Linked DNA regions of Homo sapiens. The protein of the gene in region 2 purifies or fractionates together with the protein of the main gene of each other region. This does not show direct contact. Each region holds a gene or a part of one and is shown on either strand. Other genes may lie near its edges.

Region 1 (7,035 bases), on a different chromosome or scaffold from region 2:
CATAGAAGGGAGAGGGAGATGCTGCCCTAGCGAGGGTGGTCAGCGAAGGCCTCTGAGGAGGGGACATTGAGTTGGAAGAGGAATTTCTGTGGAGAAGGAATAGCAAGAGCAGAGGTGGTGTGCTCAGCATGCAGGAAGAGCAGCCCGGAGGCCAATGTCAGCTCAAGTTTCTCAGGCAAGACCGAGAACCTGAGGAGGTGAGGTCGAAGGAGTGGACAGAGAACTGTGGATGATGTGTTGCGATTTTACCCTGACACTGGTTCATGCCCTGGCTTGGCCACTTAAAATTGGGTGACCTAAGGCTGGGCATGGTGGCTCACACCTGTAATCCCAGCACTTTGGGAGGCCGAGGCAGGCGGATTACTTGAGGTCAGGAGTTCGAAACCAGCCTGGCCAACATAGTGAAACCCCGTCCCTACTAAAAAATACAAAAATTAGTCGAGTGTGGTGGCACGTGCCTGTAGTCCCAGCTACTCAGGAAGCTGAGGCAGGAGAATCACTTGAACCCAGGAAAAGGAGGTTGCAGTGAGCCTGGATTGCACCACTGCACTCCAGCCTGGGTGACAAGAGCAAAACTCTGTTTAAAAAAAAAAAAATTGGGTGACCTTGGGCAAGGTATTTAACTTCTTTCTATGTGCCTCAGATTCTAAGATCTGTGGAATGGGGATAATATTAATACCAAGCTTATAGGGTAGGCATGATCGTTAGGTGGAATAAATCATGTGAAGTGCTTAGAGAAGTGCCTGTTAACCATTGTTATTCTGGGTTTGGTTTTTTTGTTTTGTTTTGTTTTGTTTTTTTGAGACAGAGTCTGGCTCTGTTGCCCAGGCTGGAGTGCAGTGGCATGATCTTGGCTCACTGCAACCTCTGCCTCTGGGGTTCAAGCGATTCTCCTGCCTCAGCCTCCCCAGTAGCTGGGATTATAGGCGCATGCCACTGTGCTCGACTAATTTTTGTATTTTTAGTAGAGACGGGGTTTCACCATGTTGTCCAGGCTGGCCTTGAACTCCTGACCTCAAGTGATCCACCTACCTCAGCCTCCCAAAGCGCTGGGGTACAGGCATGAGCCACCACGCTGGGCCCATTGTTATTCTGAATGCGCTGGGGAAACATCACATTATTTTGGACAGATCTGAGCAGGGACATGATCTTCCTACAGTTTTAACAGAATCACTGACTTCTGGGTGGCAAACAGTCTCGTGGAGCAAAAGCAGTGGGGAGGCTAATGCAATATTCCAGCTGGGAGGTGACAGTGGCCTAATCTGGAGATGGCTCCCGAGATCTAGGCTTAGTGATTCCTCTGACCGGCCTTGCTGGCAGTGAGAGGAGATGGGGCACAGACATCTGTTCTCCCAGGGACCCCAGCCCCAGCTGCACTTCTCCCTCCAGGAAAGCCAAAGTAGATGTGACCTTTGGATCCCTCACGTCGGCAGCTCTGGGCCTGGAGCCCGTGGTCCTGGTAAGAGTCCTGGTCATGGGAGAAGGGGCAGGGAGCCTGGAGTCAGGCAGATGCTAGGGTCCCCCTCAGGTCCCTTCCTCCTCTTCTCCCTAGCGTGATGTCCGAACAGCCTGCACCCTCCGGGCCCAGTTCCTGCAGAACCTCCTGCTTCCCCAGGCCAAGAGGGGCAGCCTCCCGTGAGTGTCCCTAGCCCCCAGAGACCCTGTAAAGACCCTGGGTTTTAAGTGGGGGTCTCTTATTTATTAATTCCTCAGACACTGAGCTTCTGGGCTACGTTCTGTAGAAGGGGACTTCCAGGCTGGGAATAGAAGGAGACAGTCTCTCATCACAAACAGTGACAGCCAGGTGGTCAGGGCTGTTGCGGGAGTGAGGAGGCCTGAGAGGCTCTGGGCACCCAGAGGCAGTGCCTTTCCCAGCTAAGAAGGCAGGGAGGGGAGAGGTTCTCTGGTGAGGAGGCTTAGCTGGGGTGAAGGGTCCAGAGAGTGTCCCAGATGAACAACCCATGTAAAGGCCCCAAAGCCAGCAGGTTGGTATAATTGGGGAACTCAAGTCTAACAGGCATAGGGAAGATGACAGCCCCTACCTTATAGGGTGGTGGTGATAACTAGAGGATAATTGACGTGTCTTGTAACGTTCTCTGTCCGCTTACCCAACCCCACAGAACCCCTCATGATGACCACTTTGGCACTTCGTACCAGCAGTGGCTGAGCTCAGTGGAGGTGAGAGGGCAGGGCTCTCAGGAAAGCCACACCCTCCCGCTCCTTGATCAAAACTTAGGGTGCCAGGACCTAACTCTTGATGACAGCCCTATTCCCATGGGGTCTCAGCTCACAGCCCTGCCCCGATCCTGCCCTGACTTCACCCTCCCTCCCCCTAGACGCTGCTGACAAACCACCCCCCAGGCCACGTCCTGGCTGCCTTGGAGCACCTGGCTGCAGAGCGGGAGGCAGAGATTCGGTCCCTGTGCAGTGGGGATGGGCTTGGCGACACAGAGATATCCAGGTGTGGGGCAGGGTATTCTCACAGTTGGGGAAGGCCATGTGAGTGGGTGAGCTGGGACAGCCTCAGGACCCCTGGCCCAGCCACCTGCTGATGGGGTAGAACTGAAACCCACTGCCTGGTGGGGTGGCAGGACTGATACTGTCCACCCTCGAGTACCAAGGCAAGGCCGCAGCACGGCTCCCTCAGCAGCTCTTCCCCCACCCCAGACCCCAGGCCCCGGACCAGTCAGACTCCAGCCAGACCCTGCCGTCCATGGTTCATCTCATCCAGGTGACCCCAGGGCTCGCCTCCCCACCACATTCCAAGACTTCCTTAATCCCCTCACCCATGGATCATGCCCTGGGTGTACCCTGATTCTGTACCCCGCTTGCAGGAGGGCTGGCGGACTGTGGGTGTGCTGGTCTCCCAGCGGAGCACCCTCCTGAAGGAGCGGCAAGTCTTGACCCAGCGCCTCCAGGGCCTGGTGGAGGAGGTGGAGAGACGCGTCCTGGGATCCAGTGAGAGGTGGGGGGCTCTCCGAGAAGAGGTCTCTAGGCCATCTCGCTTCTGAGTGTCTCAGCCCATTGGACTTTTTCAGCCTCTGTGGCTCCTATCTCTGCCTCCTCTCCCTGCAGTGTCTCTCCCTGGTTTATGGTCCCTTGTGTGGCTCAGTCACCCTTCTCTCCTTTGCTCTCCTCCACTTGCCCTGCAGGCAGGTGCTGATACTGGGGCTTCGGCGCTGTTGCCTGTGGACGGAGCTCAAGGCCCTGCACGATCAGAGCCAGGAGCTGCAGGATGCAGCTGGGCATCGGCAGCTCCTGCTGAGGGAGCTACAGGCCAAACAGCAGCGGATCCTGCACTGGCGCCAGCTGGTGGTGAGAGGCTAGGCCCAGGGCCTTGTGGAGGGCCAGAGGGGAGGCTTGAAAACTATGGCTAAGAACTGGGCCTGAGCCCTGTGTGGTAGCACATGCCTGTGGTTCCAGCACTTTGGGAGGCTGAGGTGGGAGGATCTGAGCCCAGGAGTTCAAGGCTGAAGTGAGGTATGATCACACCACTGCACTCCAGCCTGGGTGACAGAGCAAGATGCTATCACTTAAAAAAAAAGAATGCTGTCACTTAAAAATTAAGAACTGGGCCTCCTAGGCAAGAGCCCAGGTGAGACTCCCAGGCAGAAGCAGGACCTAAGCAGAGAGGCACACTGAGGCTGGGAGCTGGGAGGAGTGGGTCTCAGGGTATCCTGGTTCCTCAGGAGGAGACCCAGGAACAGGTCCGCCTGCTCATCAAGGGAAACTCGGCCAGCAAGACCCGCCTGTGCCGGAGCCCGGGGGAGGTGAGATGGGAGTTGGGGTGAGGTCTGGGTAGGGCTGGATCTGCCAGGATGGGGCTGGGTGGACTTGTGATGTTGTGATGCCCCACCCACCCCTCCCCTTCCCCACAGGTGCTAGCTCTGGTCCAGCGAAAGGTGGTCCCTACATTTGAGGCAGTGGCACCACAGAGCCGGGAGCTGCTGCGCTGTCTGGAGGAGGAAGTCCGGCATTTGCCCCACATTCTGTTGGGCACGCTGCTGCGGCACAGGCCGGGAGAGTGAGACTGGGGCTGCCCCACCCCTGCCCTGCATCCCCTGCCATGGGTGACTGTCACTCCCTGAACCTCCTCAAAAAAGATAACCCCAGACCCCCAGTGTTCCCAGGCTGCCAGACCTCACCCTTGGGTCAGCAGCCCTGGTCTTGGCATCCTAGTCCCCAGACCCACCTTGAAGTTCCTGGGCCCCCAGAGCCTCCAGAACCCAAGGCCTCCTCTCAGTCCCCACCCAACCCAGACTTCTCCCCGCCCGTAGGTTGAAGCCCCTGCCCACGGTCCTCCCATCCATCCACCAGCTGCACCCCGCGTCCCCAAGGGGCTCCAGCTTCATAGCGCTGAGCCACAAGCTGGGGCTGCCTCCAGGGAAGGTGAGTGCCCGTCTCCTGTGACTTGTCTCCCCAGCCCCGCCCCAGGTGACCGTCCTTCCCTCCTCCTCCAGGCCTCGGAGCTGCTCCTGCCGGCGGCTGCCTCTCTTCGCCAGGACCTTCTGCTCCTGCAGGACCAGCGGAGCCTCTGGTGCTGGGATCTACTCCACATGAAGACCAGCCTGCCGCCAGGCCTTCCCACCCAGGGTAGGTCTGCCCTGCCACCCCATCCAGCCTCCCCGCCCATTCCCACTACCAGCAGCCTCCACGAGTCCTTACCAGCAACCCCGTTGTTTACGCAGTGCCCATTGTGTGCTAAGGGCTTTAAACATTCTCCCTTGTTTCATCTGCACGGCAGTCCCATAAGGTAAGTGCTGCTGTTCTCTCCATTCTACAGAGAAGGGAACTGAGACGCAGAGGTTAGTAGGTTGCCCAAATGGCAAAGCTGGAATTTGAATCCAGGTGGTCTGAAATGGGTCTGTGCTCCCAACCACTAAGCTACACTGCCGTCGACTTTCCACGTGTTCATTCATCACCGTCACATAGTATACCTCAGCAGTTCAAAGCCTGGGAATCCTCTCTGCCGTCTCTTCCTAGCTGTGTGGCCTCCCCGTGCCTTAGCTTCCTCCTCAGTGGAGTAAGCATGAAGCAATATCTTACCGAGGTGCTGGGCAGATTGAGGCAGGGGACCCACACAGGGCACTGAACACTGCCTGCTATGCAGTAAGCACCCTGTGTCTCCAATGTGATTAGCATCATTGTCTGTGTACACACACAGTCTCTTGGAGTCATGACGATGAGGAAAGGGACTTTTAAGAACCCCAGTTTACAGATGAGGAAACTGAAGGTTAGAGAAGTCATTCATTCCTGGATTCACTCACCAAATACTGGGTGTCTACCAGGTGCCAGCCCAGATGGCTTGATGGGGAGTGAGGAGAAAGGTCCCCACCCCAGGGGTTTCCCCAGATGGAAGTAAAGAGTAAAGAATGAAAGGATAAATACATGGAAGAGGAGAATTGATGAGAAATGAACCGGCAGTGCCAGCAGCACTGGAGGAAGAGACTGTTCAAGCCTCTGAGTTTGGGGCTCCCTGCCCTCCACTTCTTCACAAGGGGAGGGAACAGTGTGCAGGAGCAATGAGAGCAGCCCCAGACCCCACACGGCCTCTGCCCACCTCAGCCTCTGCCTACCACGCCCTCTGCCCACCTCATGTGTTTTTTGTTTTTGCTTTTGTTTTTTTGAGACAAGGTCTCATTCTGTCACTCAGGCTGGAGTGCAGTGGTGCCATCCTGGCTTACTGCAGCCTCAACCTCCTGGGCTCAAGCCATCCTCCTGCCTCAGCCTCCCGAGTAGCTGGGACCACAGGCATGCACCCCACACCCAGCTAATTTTATATTTCTTATAATCATGGGCATCTTGAACTGTACACATCTATCATGGAACTCCTGGTTCTCTCTACTCCAAAAAACAATTTTGTTCCTCTTCTTGGTTTCCTTCCTTGTTAAATTATCTCACCCTCCTCATCCAAGTGCTGCACCCAGAAACCCAGGAGTCATCCTGAATTTCTCCATCACCCTAATCCCCCCACCCTCACCAGCTTCAGCCTCTCAGCAAGCCCTAAGGGTCCCATCCCCAGAGTTCTCCCATCGGTCCCCTGCCCCAGTAATTCCACCTGACAGCAGACGGAGCTGAACAAAGAGCCAGTGTCGTGATCAAGGTCACAGGGCAGGGATGGGATGGGGTCAGGATTCAGGCCCAGCTTGTCTGATCACGCTGCTCGTCTGCACTTGCTGAGCTGGGCCTGTTCTGTGCACATGGAGAGGTAGGCCCAGTCCCAGTCCCAGAGGAAAGCACCGCTAGGGTGAAGCTAGAGCAGGCGGAGGAGGAAGCCTTGGAGCGAGAGTGTTGGAGGGGCCTCCAGGAGGAAAGATACTCTCTACTGTGGGCCCTGGGAATCGGCCAGGCTTTGCCACATCATGAAACTCAAATACCTGCTGAAGGGCTTGGACTCTGCCTTGGGGGCACTGGAGAACCTTGGAGGGTTCTAGACAGGAGGGAGAGCATCAAATTTAGGCTTCAGGAAGATCACTGTGGTGTAGTGCGGAGGGTGAACCAGAGCAGGAGACTGAGGCCTGGAGCAGAGGAGAGGAAGAAACGCTCAGGAGACTGAGCGGACAGGCCATGGAGATTGATGGGCTCTCACGGGGAGGGAGGAAGGCATCCAGAAGGAGGCCTGGATGGGGCTGGGGGTGGTGGACTGCCCTTGAGATGAGGATCTGGGAGGAGGGACAGGTCCTCATCTCAAGGGCAGTCCCTCAGAAGGGGACTTCCAGGCTGGGAAGAGAAGGAGACAGACTCATCATTGGTTTGCGGGAGCTGCTGAGGTCAAGACTAGGGGACTGGAGAATTGGGGACTCATTGCTGTAAGGTACCAGCGAGCCAGAGGACTCAAAGCTGCCTCCTGGCTTTCTCACCCTCAGAGCTGCTGCAGATCCAGGCATCCCAGGAAAAACAGCAGAAAGAGAACCTGGGGCAGGCTCTGAAGAGGCTGGAGAAGCTACTGAAACAGGCACTGGAGCGAATCCCTGAGCTGCAGGGGATCGTGGGGGACTGGTGAGAGGGGAACGTGCCGCGGATGGGAAACAGAAA
Region 2 (7,337 bases):
AGGCAGCTGCCAGTCCTCAAAGGGATAGTCCTGCAGGGAGTCGTCAAGACCTGGAGGGAGAGTAAGGCTCAGCTCGGGGAAGCAGAGGTGTCAGGACCTTTTGGGATGGTTCTTCATGCCTGCAAAGCTCTTTTCCCTCTAGTCTAACCCTAATGACAACTCTGACACCCAGGCTGTTCTGCCCATTTCACAGATGAGGCCACTGAGTTGAGAAGCAGGAAAGTATAGGACATGGGTTCTTAAAAGTGGCCCCCAGACCAGCAGCAGCAGACTCACCGGAGAACTTGTTAGAAATGCAAATTATCAGGCCTCACCCCACACCTGCTGAATCAGAAACTCTGAGGTTGGGGCCCAGCAGTCTTTTTTTTGTTTTTGTTTTGTTTTTTCTTTTTGAGACAGGGGCTTGAGACACAGTCACGGCTCACTGCAGCCTTGACCTCCTAGGCTCAATCCATCCTCCCACCTCAGCCTCCCAAGTAGCTGGGACTACAGGCACACACCACCACACCCAGCTAATTTTTGTATTTTTTGCAGAGGTGGGATTTCACCATGTTGCCCAGGCTAGTCTCGAACTCCTGGGCTCAAGCAATTTGACTGCCTCAGTCTCTGAAAGTGCTAGAATTACAGGTGTGAGCCACGACGCCCAGCCAGCAGTTTGTATTTTAATGCAGGTGACTGTGATGCTCCCTTAAGTTTGAGAACTAATGATACAGGGGATAAGAACAAGAGGCTATGGAGTCACTGAGACACTGTGAACACTTGAGCAAGTAATAGCACTGCTCTGTGCCCAGTTTTCTCACCTGTAATGTGAGAATAATAAAAGTACCTACCTTCTAATCATGTGTGTATTGAATGACACAACATATGTCAAGGCCTTGGCCACTGTCTGGTTCGTGGGAGACAGCCAATAATAGCCATCATATTATTATTGCCAGACTTTACCATGACCTACAGGCCCTGTATGATTAGGCTACTACCTCCCTTTCCAGCATCATATCCTGAAGAGCCCCCTAAACTCAACATTTCAGATGCACAGAGCTAATTCCTTGCAGCTCCTGGAACACCCTTTTACCTCAGCGTCCTTGCAAGTGCTATTCCTCCTGCTGGCGTTGCTCTTCTATCTCCTTCACTTCCTTTTTCATCTAACTTCCTCCAGGAAGCCTTCCATAACTTCCCAGGCTGAGTGGGATGGAGGGCTCTCCTCTTGTTCCCACTGCCCCTGAGCCTCCACAAACCCCTGCACTTGACCATCGGTCTTTCCCATTTTATCACAGGCTCTTCAAAGATCAGGCCTTAGATAACCATTTGTCTCTAACCCCCGGCCTGTGCCTGGACAAGGTAGGCACTGAAAAATAAGAAAAGTGTCTATTGAGGGCTTACTATGTGCTATGCAAATCTATAAGAGCTTTACACATATTAACACATTTGATTCTCACTGCATTTCTAGGAGGTAAAGACTATCATTATCCTGCTTACAGATGGGAAAACTGACACAGAGGTTAAGTAGCTTGCTCACTCTTCGAAGGAATTCTTCCCCTTCTAAGCCAGGCTCCTTCACTGGGGGAGGTGTGTGTGTGTGTTCCCTGTGTCACATTGAGAGCACTGGACTGGGAGTTCATGAACCTATCACTCCCTGGCTATGGGCCCCTGAGCCACCTCCTTCCTGCACGGTGACTGTATTGGGCTGGTGCCCTCCCAATAGACCCAGGCATTGAGCTACAAATGAACTATGTCATGATTGTCTCACTTTGTCGACTTCATAAGGTCAGAGTTGCCTTTCCCATTTGATGGACAGAAAAACTAAGACCTATGGTCACAGAGCTGGCAAGCGGTGGGGGTGGGCCTGGAATCCAGCCTGGGAGTCTGAACCCAGCCCTGAATTCCTGCCCTTACCCGGGCTGGTCCTCCTGAGCCTGTCTCTAGTGCGCTCCAGCTCCCCACTCTGGGAGGGGTGTCCTGACTGCCTGCTCCTGGTCGCACTGTGTGTCAGGAGGCCCTTCCTTCTCTGAGTCTGCCTGTGGGGTGTGTTGCTTCCCATCTGTGTGGGCTCGCTGAGCCTGGACAGCACCTTGCCCCTTGGATAGGAGCCCCAGGGTGGGGCTGTGTCAACCTCTTCAGTCTGGCCTAGGGCTTCTGCTTCTGTCACTAGGAGCTCAGGGTGTGGAGCGGGGAAAATGACACCAGAGACTGAGCAAATCATTTCCTGGCTCTGTGTGTCAGTTTCTGACTCTAAGAAACGGATTTAACAACAGCCCACTGGCCCTGGGGCCAGGGAAGATGAAGGAGATACAGTGGGTGTGGGCCTGTCAGGCCTCCCTCCTGTTTTCATGACACCGCCTCCCCATTATCACCCTAGAGGCCTCTTGGGCTACTGCCATGATGAGGGGCCCCCTTCTGGGTCCTTGGGCCCCCCAGGGTCATCTCATCTGTCTCTCTGCCCAGCACGGTTCCTGGAACATGTTAGGTGCTCTGTAAATATTTGTTGACTGACTGACCGACTGATAGAGCCCGCAGTTTATTATTTTTTTTTTTCTTTTGAGCTGAATCTCGCTCTGTCGTCCAGACTGGAGTGCAGCGGTGCAATCTCGGCTCACTGTAACCTCTGCCTCCTGGGTTCAAGCGATTCTCCTGCCTCAGCCTCCCAAGTAGCTGGGATTACAGGCACCTGCCACCACCCCCAGATAATTTTTGTATTTTTAGTAGAGACGGGGTTTCACCATGCTGGTCTTGAACTCCCGACCTCAGGTGACCCACCCACCTTGGCTTCCCAAAGTGCTGGGATTACAGGTGTGAACCAGCGCACCCAGTCCGCAGATTTTTTTTCCTTTTCCTCTCCTCCCGCTTCCCGGTGGGACACCACACCTAGTCCCCTTCAAGCCCAACTCTACCCCAGCCCCACCCACCTCTCAGCCAAGTTGCCACCTTTCCGGGGGTCCAGGTCTCTACCGGTTCCATGGCCCAGCTCTGCCAGCTCGAATCAGCTCCTGTTTTGCCCTGCTGTCGCCGGAATTTCCGCTCCCAGAGCCCAGGCCTAAGGAGGGGCCGGGCTGGGTCCTGGGCGGAGCCTACTGCATACCTGGGCTCACACAGACGGCAAGATGAGGCACTGCGACAGCCATTGGCCCACGCCCGTCCGCCTCCTGCCCGGCCCTTCAGACATCCTAGGGCTCTGGCATCTCGCGCCTGCTAGGGGGCAGTGCCACTGGCCTCATATCGCGGGGTGGGACCCTGACCCTTGGGCTCCTCAAGAAAAAGCCACAAGAGGAGCGCTGAAATCAGTAGCAAAGCACAGAGGCTAGGGGGCCAGGTCCCTGGGTGCCTAGGCCAGCTCTTGTTAGCTGTGTGACCTGGGGCTGACCCTAACTTCTGCGCCTCAGTTTCTGGGTCTGTAAAAGAGATATAATAGACCGTACTTCAAAGGGCAGCTGTGCACAGTATCTGAATGGCTTGAAAACATTTAGAACTGGGGTGTTTAGCCTCCCTTGGATTTTGCAGTATGGACTCTGGCATCTGGTGAGGCCTGTGAATGCTTTCTCAGAATAGCTGCTTATAAAGGCATAAAACAGGCCGGGCGCGGTGGCTCACGCCTGTAATCCCAGCACTTTGGGAGGCCGAGGTGGGCGGATCACTTGAGATCAGGAGTTCAAGACCAGCCTGGCCAATATGGTGAAACACCATCTCTACTAAAAATACAAAAAATTAGCTGGGCGTAGTGGGTGCTTGTAATCCCAGCTACTCAGGAGGCTGAGGCAGGAGAATCCCTTGAACCCAGGAGGGGGAGGTTCCAGTGAGCCAAGATCGTGCCACTGCACTCCAGCCTGGGCAACAGAGCAAAACTCTGTATTATAAATAAATAAATAAATGCACAAAACAAAATGCTTAGGATTACAATGAGAACAATTATCAAAACTATATTTAAAAACAAATTTGGCCGGGCATGGTGGTTCACGCCTGTAATTCCAGCACTTTGGAAGGCCAAGGCGGGTGGATCATGAGGTTAAGAGATGGAAACCAGCCTGCCCAACATGGTGAAACCCCGTCTCTACTAAAAATACAAAAATTAGCTGGGTGTGGTGGTGCACGCCTGTAGTCACAGCTACTCAGGAGGCTGAGGCAGGAGAATCGCTTGAACCTGGGAGGCGGAGGTTGCAGTGAGCTGAGATCACGCCTCTGCACTCCAGCCTGGCAACAAAGCAAGACTCCGTCTCAAAAAAAAAACCCACAAAAAACAAAAAAAAAATTTGGAGCTGGGGAGTGCTGGCACACGACTGTAGTCCCAGCTACTCGAGAGGTTGAGAGGTTGAGCGGGGGAGTATCACTCAAGCCCAGGAGTCAAAGCCACCCTGGGCAACATAGCAGGAGCCCATCTCAAAAAAATAAAACCAGAAATTTATATTATGTGTTTACTAACATTAATAAGACTGGCCGAAAGTTAAATTTTTCTTTTTTAATGACCTCAGTGTGTTGTCGACCAGCTTGAATAAGGACATTAAACTGTGGGGTGGTCTTTGACGCCCCTCCTCTTACATATTGATCAGCAAACAACTAAAAACAGGGAATGCTGGGCCGGGCATGGTGGCTCACGCCTATAATCGAGACGGGCGGATTATGAGGTCAGGAGATCGAGACCATCCTGGCTAACATGGTGAAACCCCGTCTCTACTAAAAATACAAAAAATTAGCCAGGCATGGTGGCGGGCGCCTGTAGTCCCAGCTACTCAGGAGGCTGAGGCAGGAGAATGGCGTGAACCCAGGAGGCAGAGCTTGCAGTGAGCCGAGTTCGCGCCACTGCACTCTAGCCTGGGCGACAGAGCAAGACTTCGTCTCAAAAAAAAAAAAAAAAAGACAGGGAATGCAGAAGAGTGGAGAAGCCCTACTCAGAACAGGCAGATTCGCCCTTTGGTCACTGAACCACTGCTAAGCCTGGAGGTAACCAATTAATGGCGGCTACATCACAGGAGCATCTGAAACAGAAGTTGCTCACGAACAATTTAGTGGTGGTTTAACAACCACTGTGATTTTGAAATCACTTGAGCATAAATATTTTGAGATACTTGCAATAACTACAATTTGATATGAAAATATGTGATTTCTATTGGTGACTAAGCCAAAGATACTGCTACTGCTTCAATCCATATAGAAGGAAATCATAAATTTTGGTTAGAGTTTAGCAAAAATAAAAATATAATTTTTTCCCATCCAAGTTTATGGATCCCCTGAATTCTGAACCTCAGAGCAAGAGCTTTAATCTTAGAAAAATATCTGACACATAGTAAATGTTCATTTTCATCATCATCATCAGGTCAGGGGACTCCCAGGACTTTAGAATCAGATAAAATCAGCCGGGCGTGGTGGCTCAGGCCTGTAATCCCAGCACTTCAGGAGACCTATGCGGGCGGATCACCTGAGGTCAGGAGTTCGAGACCAGCCTGACCAACATGGAGCAACCCCATCTCTACTAAAAATACAAAATTAGCCGGGTGTGGTGGCACATGCCTGTAATCCCAGGTACTCGGGAGGCTGAGGCAGGAGAATTGCTTGAACTCATGAGGTAGAGGTAGCGGTGAGCTGAGATCGCGTCATTGCACTCCAGCCTGGGCAACAAAAGTGAAACTCCACCTCAAAAAAAAAAAGGCCGGGCGCGGTGGCTCATGCCTGTAATCCCAGCACTTTGGGAGGCCAAGGCGGGTGGATCATCTGAGGTCAGGAGTTCGAGATCAGCCTGGCCAACATAGAGAAGCCCTGTCTGTACTAAAAATCCAAAAAATTAGCCGGTCGTGGTGGCGGGCGCCTATAATCCCAGCAACTCGGAAGGCTGAGACAGGAGAATTGCTTGAACCCGGAAGCAGAGGTTGCAGTGAGCCGAGATTGCGCCACTGCACTCCAACCTGGGCAACAAGAGCAAAACTCTGTCTCAAAAAAAAAAAAAATCAGATAAAATCAGTTCCATACTCAACTGCTATGTGACTCAGCCCAACTTCTACAGCTCTCTGAATCTGTTTCTTTGTCTCCAGAAGGGGATTCCTAGGCCTTAGCACTGTGATGACATTAAGTACTTTGAAATCTGTATCATGGGGTAGATATGAGTTATTATTGCTTTAATTCTGTGGGGAGGAGCTACCTGTTGTCACCTACTTCAGAATTTCTGCAGCACCCCCAGTCATCAAAGCCTGTCACGACCTTACCTGTAACCCAGAGACCCAAAGTCTGAATTTCGCCCATGGTTGGCCCATGTAGTGTACGTGTGTTGTCATCATTTAATAACGTCACATCCAAATTGAGATTTCCAGCTTCTCTGAACTTGGCCAGCTCTGGTGATGCCATCCCACCTTCACACTTGGTATTAACAGCCTCTTTCATTTTGTGAGCCAGTTGGCTTCAAATTTGCAAAATGCCCGTCTCCAGCTTTGTCTTTTGCCTCAGGTCTGTGTCCCTTGAACACTCCGTGCTGCATCCTCGTTTAACATTTTTGCCTCTTCATGCAGCAGCCTCCCTGTGGCACTCTGGGGAAGTCCAGTAAATTCTAATAGAGCCTTTATCAGTGTTCGGTAGACAGATCTTGATTTCATCAAATATCTTTCCTGAGCTGCCACCAGAGGTGAGAACCAGCCCCCTCTCTCCCTGAACCACGGCGCCTTTACTCTACGCTCCCAGCATCTGCCAGGGTTAGGCAGTTAGGAACACAGTAAGTGGCAGCTTCTATTTATTTTTATCTATTTTTTTGAGACAGAGCTTTGCTCTTGTTGCCCAGGCTGGAGTGCAATGGCATGATCTTGGCTCACTGCAACCTCCGCCTCCCAGGTTCAAGCTATTCTCCTGCCTCTGCCTCCCAAGTAGCTGGGATTACAGGCGTGTGCCACCATGCTCGGCTAATTTTGTATTTTTAGTAGAGATGGGGTTTCACCATGTTGACCAGGCTGGTCTCAAACTCCTGACCTCAAGTGATCTCCTTGCCTCGGCCTCTCAAAGTGCTGGGATTACAGGCGTAAACCACCACGCCCGGCTGACAACTTCTATTTTAAAGGGTTTCATTTTGTTTTTTGAGAGAGTCTTGCTCCGCTGCCCAGGTTGGAGTGCAGTGGCGCAGTCTTGGCTCACTGCAACCTCTCCCTCCCAGGTTCAAGTGATTCTCGTGCCTCAATCTCCCAAGTAGCTGGGATTACAGGTGTGCGCCACCACACCCAGCTAATTTTTTTATTTTTAGTAGAGACAGGGTTTTGCCATGTTGGCCAGGCTGGTCTCGGACTCCTGACCTCAAGTGATTCACCTACCTTGGCCTCCCAAAGTGCTGGGATTACAGGTGTGAGCCACCATGCCCAGCCTATTTTAAAAAGCTT
Region 3 (7,035 bases), on a different chromosome or scaffold from region 2:
CTGTGGACAGAAAAGAGGCAGGAAGAAGTAGGGGTGGCAGCGGAGTGGGCCACGGCATCCTGGAGCACCAGCAGCTGGCGGTCTGTCTTCTGGGTGAACAGCAGCTGCAAGAGATGGGGTGAAGTTTCGTGGGAGCAGGAGAGACCCCAGAGCAACTGCCAGTTTCCACGTGCTCTGGCCCATGCCTCTAGTGCCACCCATTTCTCAGAAAGAAAAACTAAGGAGAGATGGAATGTGGTCCTTCGTGTCCAGTCTCCCAATGTAGGGCTGTGGGCAGAGACTCCTGGCTCCCTGAGGAGGGGCTGGGGGCTGGACTCCTGGGTCTGAGGGAGGTGGGGCTGGGGCCTGGACTCCTGGGTCTGAGAGAGGAGGGGCTGGGGCCTGGACTCCTGAGTCTGAGGGAGGAGGGGCTGGGGCCTGGACTCCTGGGTCTGAGGGAGGAGGGGCTAGGGCCTGGACTCCTGCGTCTGAGGGAGGAGGGGCTGGGGACTGGACTTTCAAGTCTGAGGGAGGAGGGACTGAGAGGCATACAAAATCCCCATACCTTAGTGAGGGCCGGGTTGGGCTCAGAGAAGTCCCCGCCAGGTGTTCCCTGAAGGCAATTGAGCTCGAGCAGCCGGCTCCGTTCCTACCAGAAGATATGGACAGCTACGTGTCAAAGTCAGAATGGGCTGTCCCAGCTGCTTTCCCTAATGTCAGGAGACATCTGGGGTGCAGGGAGGTGGTGGGATGCCCCAGGGGGAAGTGAGGACGGTAGGGTAGGGCAGGTGACAGGTAGCTCACCTGTGACAGGGCCTGAAGGGCCTCCTCCTTCTTCCGGCTCAACCCCCGGCTCTCGGCTGCCATCTGCTCCCCCAGTGACTTGAGCTGCTCTTCCAGGACCCGGATCCGGTGCTGCAGAGCACCCCTCTGTCCCGGTTACTCATCTGTCACGGCCCCAGCCAGCTCTCCAGGCCACCCTCCCACAGAACCACATCTGCCTGGAGGGCTGGGGTTTACTCCAGCCACTCCCAGAGACCATGGGATCGGAGTGTCCAGGGCTGGGGACCCAGCGTTCAGCTCCCTGGACCCTCTTCCCTTTTGAGGGTCCAGAAGAGATCTGGGGAAGATGAAGAGAAAGGGATGGACAGAGAGAACAGTAACCAAGACAGGCCCCAAAAGACAGAGATGTAGACAAAGATTCAGGCAAAAGAAAAGATAGAAATAGAACAGAGACAAGTAGAGACAACCCGAGACGAAGGAAAAGCCAGCGGGAGAGGAAAAAGATCCAGAAGCAGGTGGGGAAAGGAGACCCAAGAAAAGCTCTTTTTTTTTTTTTTTTTGAGATGGAGTTTTGCTGTTGTTGCCCAGGCTGGAGTGCAATGGCTCAATCTCGGCTCACCGCCACCTCCGCCTCCCGGATTCAAGCAATTCTCTGCCTCAGCCTCCCGAGTAGCTGGGATTACAGGCATGCGTCACCACCCTCAGCTAATTTTGTATTTTTAGTAGAGATGGGCTTTCTCCATGTTGGTCAGGCTGGTCTCAAACTCCCAAACTCAGGTCATCTGCCTGCCTCGGCCTCCCAAAGTGCTGGGATTACAGGAGTGAGCCACCGAGCCCGGCCGAGCTTTCTAATCCAAAACTTTGGGAAACTCTGTGTTAAATATGGTCAAACATGCCCATTTTTTCCCAAGGGTCTCACAAGTCAGACCCTTGAATGTGAGGCTCCCAGGAAGGATCTGATGAAGCATCTTTTTGGAATAGAGGCAAAGAATGTGGTGGTGAATACCAAGTTTGTTCAAATCCTGGCTGTGGCGAGGCACGGTGGCTCATGTCTGTAATCCCAGCATCTTGAAAGGCCAAGGTGGGAGGATCGCTTGAATCCAAGAGTTTAAGACCAGGTGAAACCCTGTCTCTACTAAAAATACAAAAATTATCCAGGTGTAGGGGCTCGCACCTGTGGTCCCAGCTACTCGAGAGGCTGAGGTGGGAGGATCGCTTAAGCACAGGACGTGGAGGCTGCAGTGAGCTGTGAACGTGTCACTGCACTCCAGCCTGGGTGACAGAGTGAGACGCTATCTCAAAAAATAAAAATAAAAAAATCCTGGCTCTGTCCCTTACTAAGGAAACTTGGAAAAGATTACTTAAGCACCTTGACCTTCAGCTTCTTTATTTATAACGTGAAAAAAAAAAAACGTAATAGAACTTGCCTCATAAGTTTGTTGTAAGGATTCAGTGAGGAAATGCTCATGAAATATTCAGGACCATATCTGGCACATAGTAAATGTTTCATTAGTATCAGCTCTTGTTGTTACTATTCAGAAGAACATGACAGGCAGGAAACAAGGACAGAGAAAAAGGCAGGCACAGAGCAGGGGAGACAGAGAGGAGCAGCAAGGGGGGCAGCGCTGGTCAGGCATGACTCACTCTGTGCTGCGCCATGCTGGCCTGGAGTTCCTGGACCTTGGGGTCTGGCACCTGGGGCCCAGGGCTGTCCCGATCCTCCTCCTCCTGCCGGCTCTCCCGCTCCAGTTGCTGGAACTCCAGGTCCTCATAGGCACGTTGGGCCACATCCAGTTGTTCCCTCATCTATAGGTCGGAACACAAAAAGGGTGGAGGCCTGAATCCCTAAGACCCCAGGGAGTAGTGGGCTGGGGCTGGGACTCCTGGTCAGAGGAAGAAGGTGACTGAGGACTTGGATTCCTGGGTCCTGGGGAGGAGGGGGCTAAGAATCAGAGGGCCAGCTGGGCACAGTGGCTCACGCCTGTAATCCCAGCACTTTGGGAGGCCGAGGCAGGTGGATCACCTGTCAGGAGTTCGAAACCAGCCTAGCCAAAATAGTGAAACCCCGTCTCTACTAAAATGCCAAAAATTAGCTGGGTGTGGTGGTGCGCACCTGTAGTCCCAGCTACACGGGAGGCTGAGATGGGAGAATCGCTTGAACCTGGGAGGCGGAGGTTGCAGTGAGCCGAGATCGCACCACTGCACTCCAGCCTGGGCAACGAGGCGAGACTCTGTCTCAAAAAAAACAAAAAAGAAAGAACCAGATGCCATTACCTCCTGCACACCCTGCAGAAGCCGCTCGCGTTGGTCCTCTGGCTGTGAGTCGAGCTGTCCCTGGGCCTTGCGGAGTCTCTGGCGAAGACCCTCTAGGCGATCCCGTTCCTGGCTCAGCCGCCTCTGTTCCTGAAAGAACAACAAGGTTCTCACCCTCAGCTTAAGCATAGCGGGAGAAGCAGCAGCCAGCCATATCTCAGAGCCTGCCTGGGGTGTCGGCTGTACAAAGGCAGGGACTTCATCTATGTGATTCACTCCTGTGCAGGCCTGCCTCACAGTCAGCACCAAGATTTTAAAGAAATGAATGAGGCCAGGTGTGGTGGCCCACACCTGTAATCCTAGCACTGTGGGAGGCCAAAGTGGGAAGATCTCTTGAGCCCAGGTGTTTGAGACTAGCCTGGGCAACATAGGGGGAGCCCATCTCTACAAAAAAACAAAAAAATTAGTGGAGTGTGTTAGTGCACGCCTGTAGTTCCAGCTACTCGGGAGGCTGAGGTGGGAGGATTGCTTGAGCCAGGGAGATTGAGGCTGCACTGAGCTGTGTTTGCATCACTGTTCCAGTCTGGGTGACAGAGGGAGACACTGTCTCGAAAGGGAAGGAAAGGAGAAAAGACAGAAAAGAAAGAAAGAGAGAAAGAGGGAAGGAACGAAGGAAGGAGAGAGAGAAAGAAAAGAGGGAGGGAGGGAAGAGAAAGAAAAAGAAAGAAAAGGAAAGGAGGAGAAAGAGAAACAAAAAGGAAGGAAGGAAGGAATGATGGAAGGAAGGAAAGAAGAAAGAAAATTAATGAATGCAAAACATATTCATGTTATGTGATACGGTGGATGCAGAAGTGGATTGTGTCTGGGCCCTGTCCTCCAAGTGGGAACACAGCCAGTTGGAAAGATCAGGGCAGTAAAATCCAGAGACTGTGGGAACCCAGAATGAAGAACAATGTCAGCCAGAGGTTGAGGCTGCAGTGATTGCACTACTGCACTCCAGCCTGGGCGACAGTGAGACCCTGTCTCAAAATCAAAACAAAACAAAACAATCAGGGAGCATTTGGATCTGGGAAAATAAAAGGAGCTAGAAGAGCATTTTGGGCAGAGGAAGCGGCTTGGCACAAATGCATGAAAGTTGAAAAGTACAAGAAGTCTGGGGGACAAACTCCAGCCAGGGTGGAAGAGGATGTGGTGGTGGGAAGAACGTGGTGGGAGAGGACAGTGGGAAGGCCAGCTCGTCCAGCTCACGGGGGGTTTGGTCAACCTGGGGATATGGGGAGCCTCAGAAGGACTGAAAGGATGGGGTAGGAGCTAGGAATCATCCCTCTGGGAGATGGGTTACAGGGGTGGAGAGCAGCTGCCTCGGGAGTCCTCCAAGCAATGAGGGTGAGACCTAAGCTGGGGCCTGGGCGGTGGGGCTGAAAAATAGATGGACTAGACAGAGAGGATCAGGAAGCAGAAAGGATAGGACATGGTGGTTGACGGGCTTGGAGGTGAGAGACAGGGAAGTGTACAGGGCAAAGTCCAGGACTCTGGCCTGGTGACCAAAGGGACAGCAAGACAAACAGTGTGGAGAAGGGAGTTGCTGAGGTCAGCCAGACTCCTGGGTCAGAGGGAGGAGGGGCTGGGGCCTGGATTCCTGGATCTAAGGAAGGAGGATCTGGGGGTCTGGACTTCTGGGTTTGAGGGAGGAGGAGCTGGGGGTCTGGACTCCTGGGACAGAGGGAGAAGGGGCTGCGACCGAGATTTCTGGATCTGGGTGAGAAGGGAGTATGAAGTAGCCAGTACCCTAGGAAGAAGAGCACATTTCTGTCTCAGGAGAGAGGGCCTGGGAGAAATATGTGATCTTTGAGGATAAATGAGGGCCTAGGACCCAGCCTCATAAAATTCCAACATACACGACACTTGCAAAGAAAAAAACTGACAAAATCACAAGTCACCATTTTCCAACCTATAATGGTAACTGACCCAAGCAATGACCACTGATGGATGTTACAATCTTCAGATAAAAGATTCTTTTTTTTGAGATGGAGTTCTGCTCCCGTTGCCCAGGCTGGAGTGCAGTGGTGTGATCTTGGCTCCTGGGAGCTGCAACCTCCACCTCCCGGATTCAAGCAATTCTCCTGCCTCAGCCTCCCGAATAGCTGGGATTACTGGTGCCTGCCACCACGCCCAGCTAATTTTTTGTATTTTTAGTAGAGATGGGGTTTCATCATGTTGGCCAGGCTGGCCTCGAACTGCGGTGGCTCATACCTGTAATCCCAGCACTTTGGGAGGCCAAGGCGGGCAGATCACCTGAGGTCAGGAGTTCGAGACCAGCCTGACCAGCATGGAGAAACCCCATCTCTACTGAAAATACAAAATTACCCGGGCATGGTGGTGCATGCCTGTAATCCCAGCTACTGGGGAGGCTAAGACAGGAGAATCGCTTGAACCTGGGAGGCAGAGGTTACGGTGAGCCAAGATCACGCCATTGCACTCCAGCCTGGGCAACAAGAGCGAAACTGTGTCTCGCAAAAAAAAAGAGACTAGGGTGATCTTATTAGGTCGGGACAACCAGAGATGAGGTTCCCAACACTGGCTCAGGAAGCACTAAAGCACTTCTGAATACGATCAAACCTCTCCCTCTAACCAACACCCACTTGCAGAAACAGAGGCATGTTCAAGGGCACCACAGGCATGCGATCAGCCATGCTCTGCCTATAGGACAGAAGACTGGATTTTTCCAATAAACAGTATGGGGAAGACACAGCGGGTAGGAACCACCAGAGATAAAACAATGGGCAAGACGTATCAGCCAATCACACTGAACTTTGGGGACTTCATTCAAACAAGCCACCTGTTAACTGGCATTTTGAGACTGTCTGGGAAACACAAAAACTAACCAGAAATAAGACAATACTAAGAACTTATTAATTTTTTATTTTTGAGACAGGGTCTTGCTCTATCGCCCAGGTTGGAGTGCAATGTTATAATCACAGCTCACTGCAGCCTCTACCTTCTGGGCTCAATTGATCCTCCCACCTCACTCTTCTGAGTCTGAGGCCACAGGCACATGCCACCATGCCTGGTTAATTTTTGTATTTTTATTTTTCACAGAAACGGTGTCTTATTATAATATTGCCAGGCTGGTCTCATAGTCTTGGCCTCAAGCGATCCTCCCACTTTGCCCCGCCCCCCGTACCCCCCCCCCACCCCGCAAGTACTGGGATTACAGGTGTGAGCCACTTGGCCCAGCCTAAAAGGATTTCTTATCTGTCAATGATACACTCTAAACATATGTACAGACCATATGATGTCTGGGATTGGCTTTTAAAACTGGGGACGAGAACAAATTGGAGATAATGAAACAAGAATGTAAGAATATTAATCATTGATGAAGCTGGTGGGCACAGGACATGGGAGCTGCCTGACTATTGTGGGGTGGGTTTGGAAGTTTTCTTTTTCTCTTTTTTTTTTTTTTTTTTTTTTGAGACGGAGTCTCCTTCTTGTCACGCAGGCTGCTGGAGTGCAATGGTGCGATCTTGGCTCACTGCAACCTCCATCTCCCGGATTCAAGCGATTCTCCTGCCTCAGCCTCCCAAGTAGCTGGGACTACAGGCGCCCGCCACCACGCCCTGCTAATTTTTGTATTTTTAAGCAGAGACGGGGTTTCGCCATGTTGCCCAGGCTGGTCTCAAACTCCTGAGCTCAGGCAATCCGCCCGCCTCGGCCTCCCAAAGTGCTATGATTACAGGCGTGAGCCACTGCTTCCGGCCAGTTTGGAAGTTTTTACACACCCACATTTAAATAGCAAACGGACAGGGGACAAAGGAAGAGCCCCAAAAATCTCGCCCAGGGAGGGAGAAGGAAAACCAGGAGGGGCATCTGCCCCTCACTCTCTCAGGAGCCCAAATGTCTTCCTTTGGGGAATGGGGACAACCCCGGGGCGCAGGTGGCTAGGAGCACACCAACATCCATGGACCAGGAAGGACACTGCTGATGAAGACCCGGTGAGCCAAACAGACCTGTTCCCGCTGC

The links. The genes of interacting proteins can lie anywhere in the genome.
Region 1: the proteins of CNKSR1 (region 2) and HAUS5 purify together in Homo sapiens (affinity purification with mass spectrometry; 2 studies listed by BioGRID and IntAct, with this or other methods). This does not show direct contact.
Region 3: the proteins of CNKSR1 (region 2) and PHLDB3 purify together in Homo sapiens (affinity purification with mass spectrometry; 2 studies listed by BioGRID and IntAct, with this or other methods). This does not show direct contact.

Annotation. Positions count from the first base shown.
Region 1 is NC_000019.10:35,615,735-35,622,769, forward strand, and holds part of HAUS5 (HAUS augmin-like complex subunit 5), read left to right. Parts: intron 1-1,389; coding exon 1,390-1,459; intron 1,460-1,552; coding exon 1,553-1,635; intron 1,636-2,120; coding exon 2,121-2,178; intron 2,179-2,336; coding exon 2,337-2,461; intron 2,462-2,667; coding exon 2,668-2,731; intron 2,732-2,834; coding exon 2,835-2,965; intron 2,966-3,152; coding exon 3,153-3,315; intron 3,316-3,689; coding exon 3,690-3,770; intron 3,771-3,878; coding exon 3,879-4,024; intron 4,025-4,277; coding exon 4,278-4,389; intron 4,390-4,460; coding exon 4,461-4,593; intron 4,594-4,688; coding exon of another isoform or gene 4,689-4,705; exon of another isoform or gene 4,706-4,753; intron 4,754-6,866; coding exon 6,867-6,999; intron 7,000-7,035.
Region 2 is NC_000001.11:26,173,166-26,180,502, reverse strand, and holds the start of CNKSR1 (connector enhancer of kinase suppressor of ras 1), read right to left. Parts: upstream 3,013-7,337; 5' UTR 2,956-3,012; coding exon 2,904-2,955; intron 51-2,903; coding exon 1-50. UniProt on the Homo sapiens protein: May function as an adapter protein or regulator of Ras signaling pathways.
Region 3 is NC_000019.10:43,494,712-43,501,746, forward strand, and holds part of PHLDB3 (pleckstrin homology-like domain family B member 3), read right to left. Parts: coding exon 7,023-7,035; intron 3,166-7,022; coding exon 3,037-3,165; intron 2,569-3,036; coding exon 2,407-2,568; intron 910-2,406; coding exon 784-909; intron 629-783; coding exon 545-628; intron 105-544; coding exon 1-104.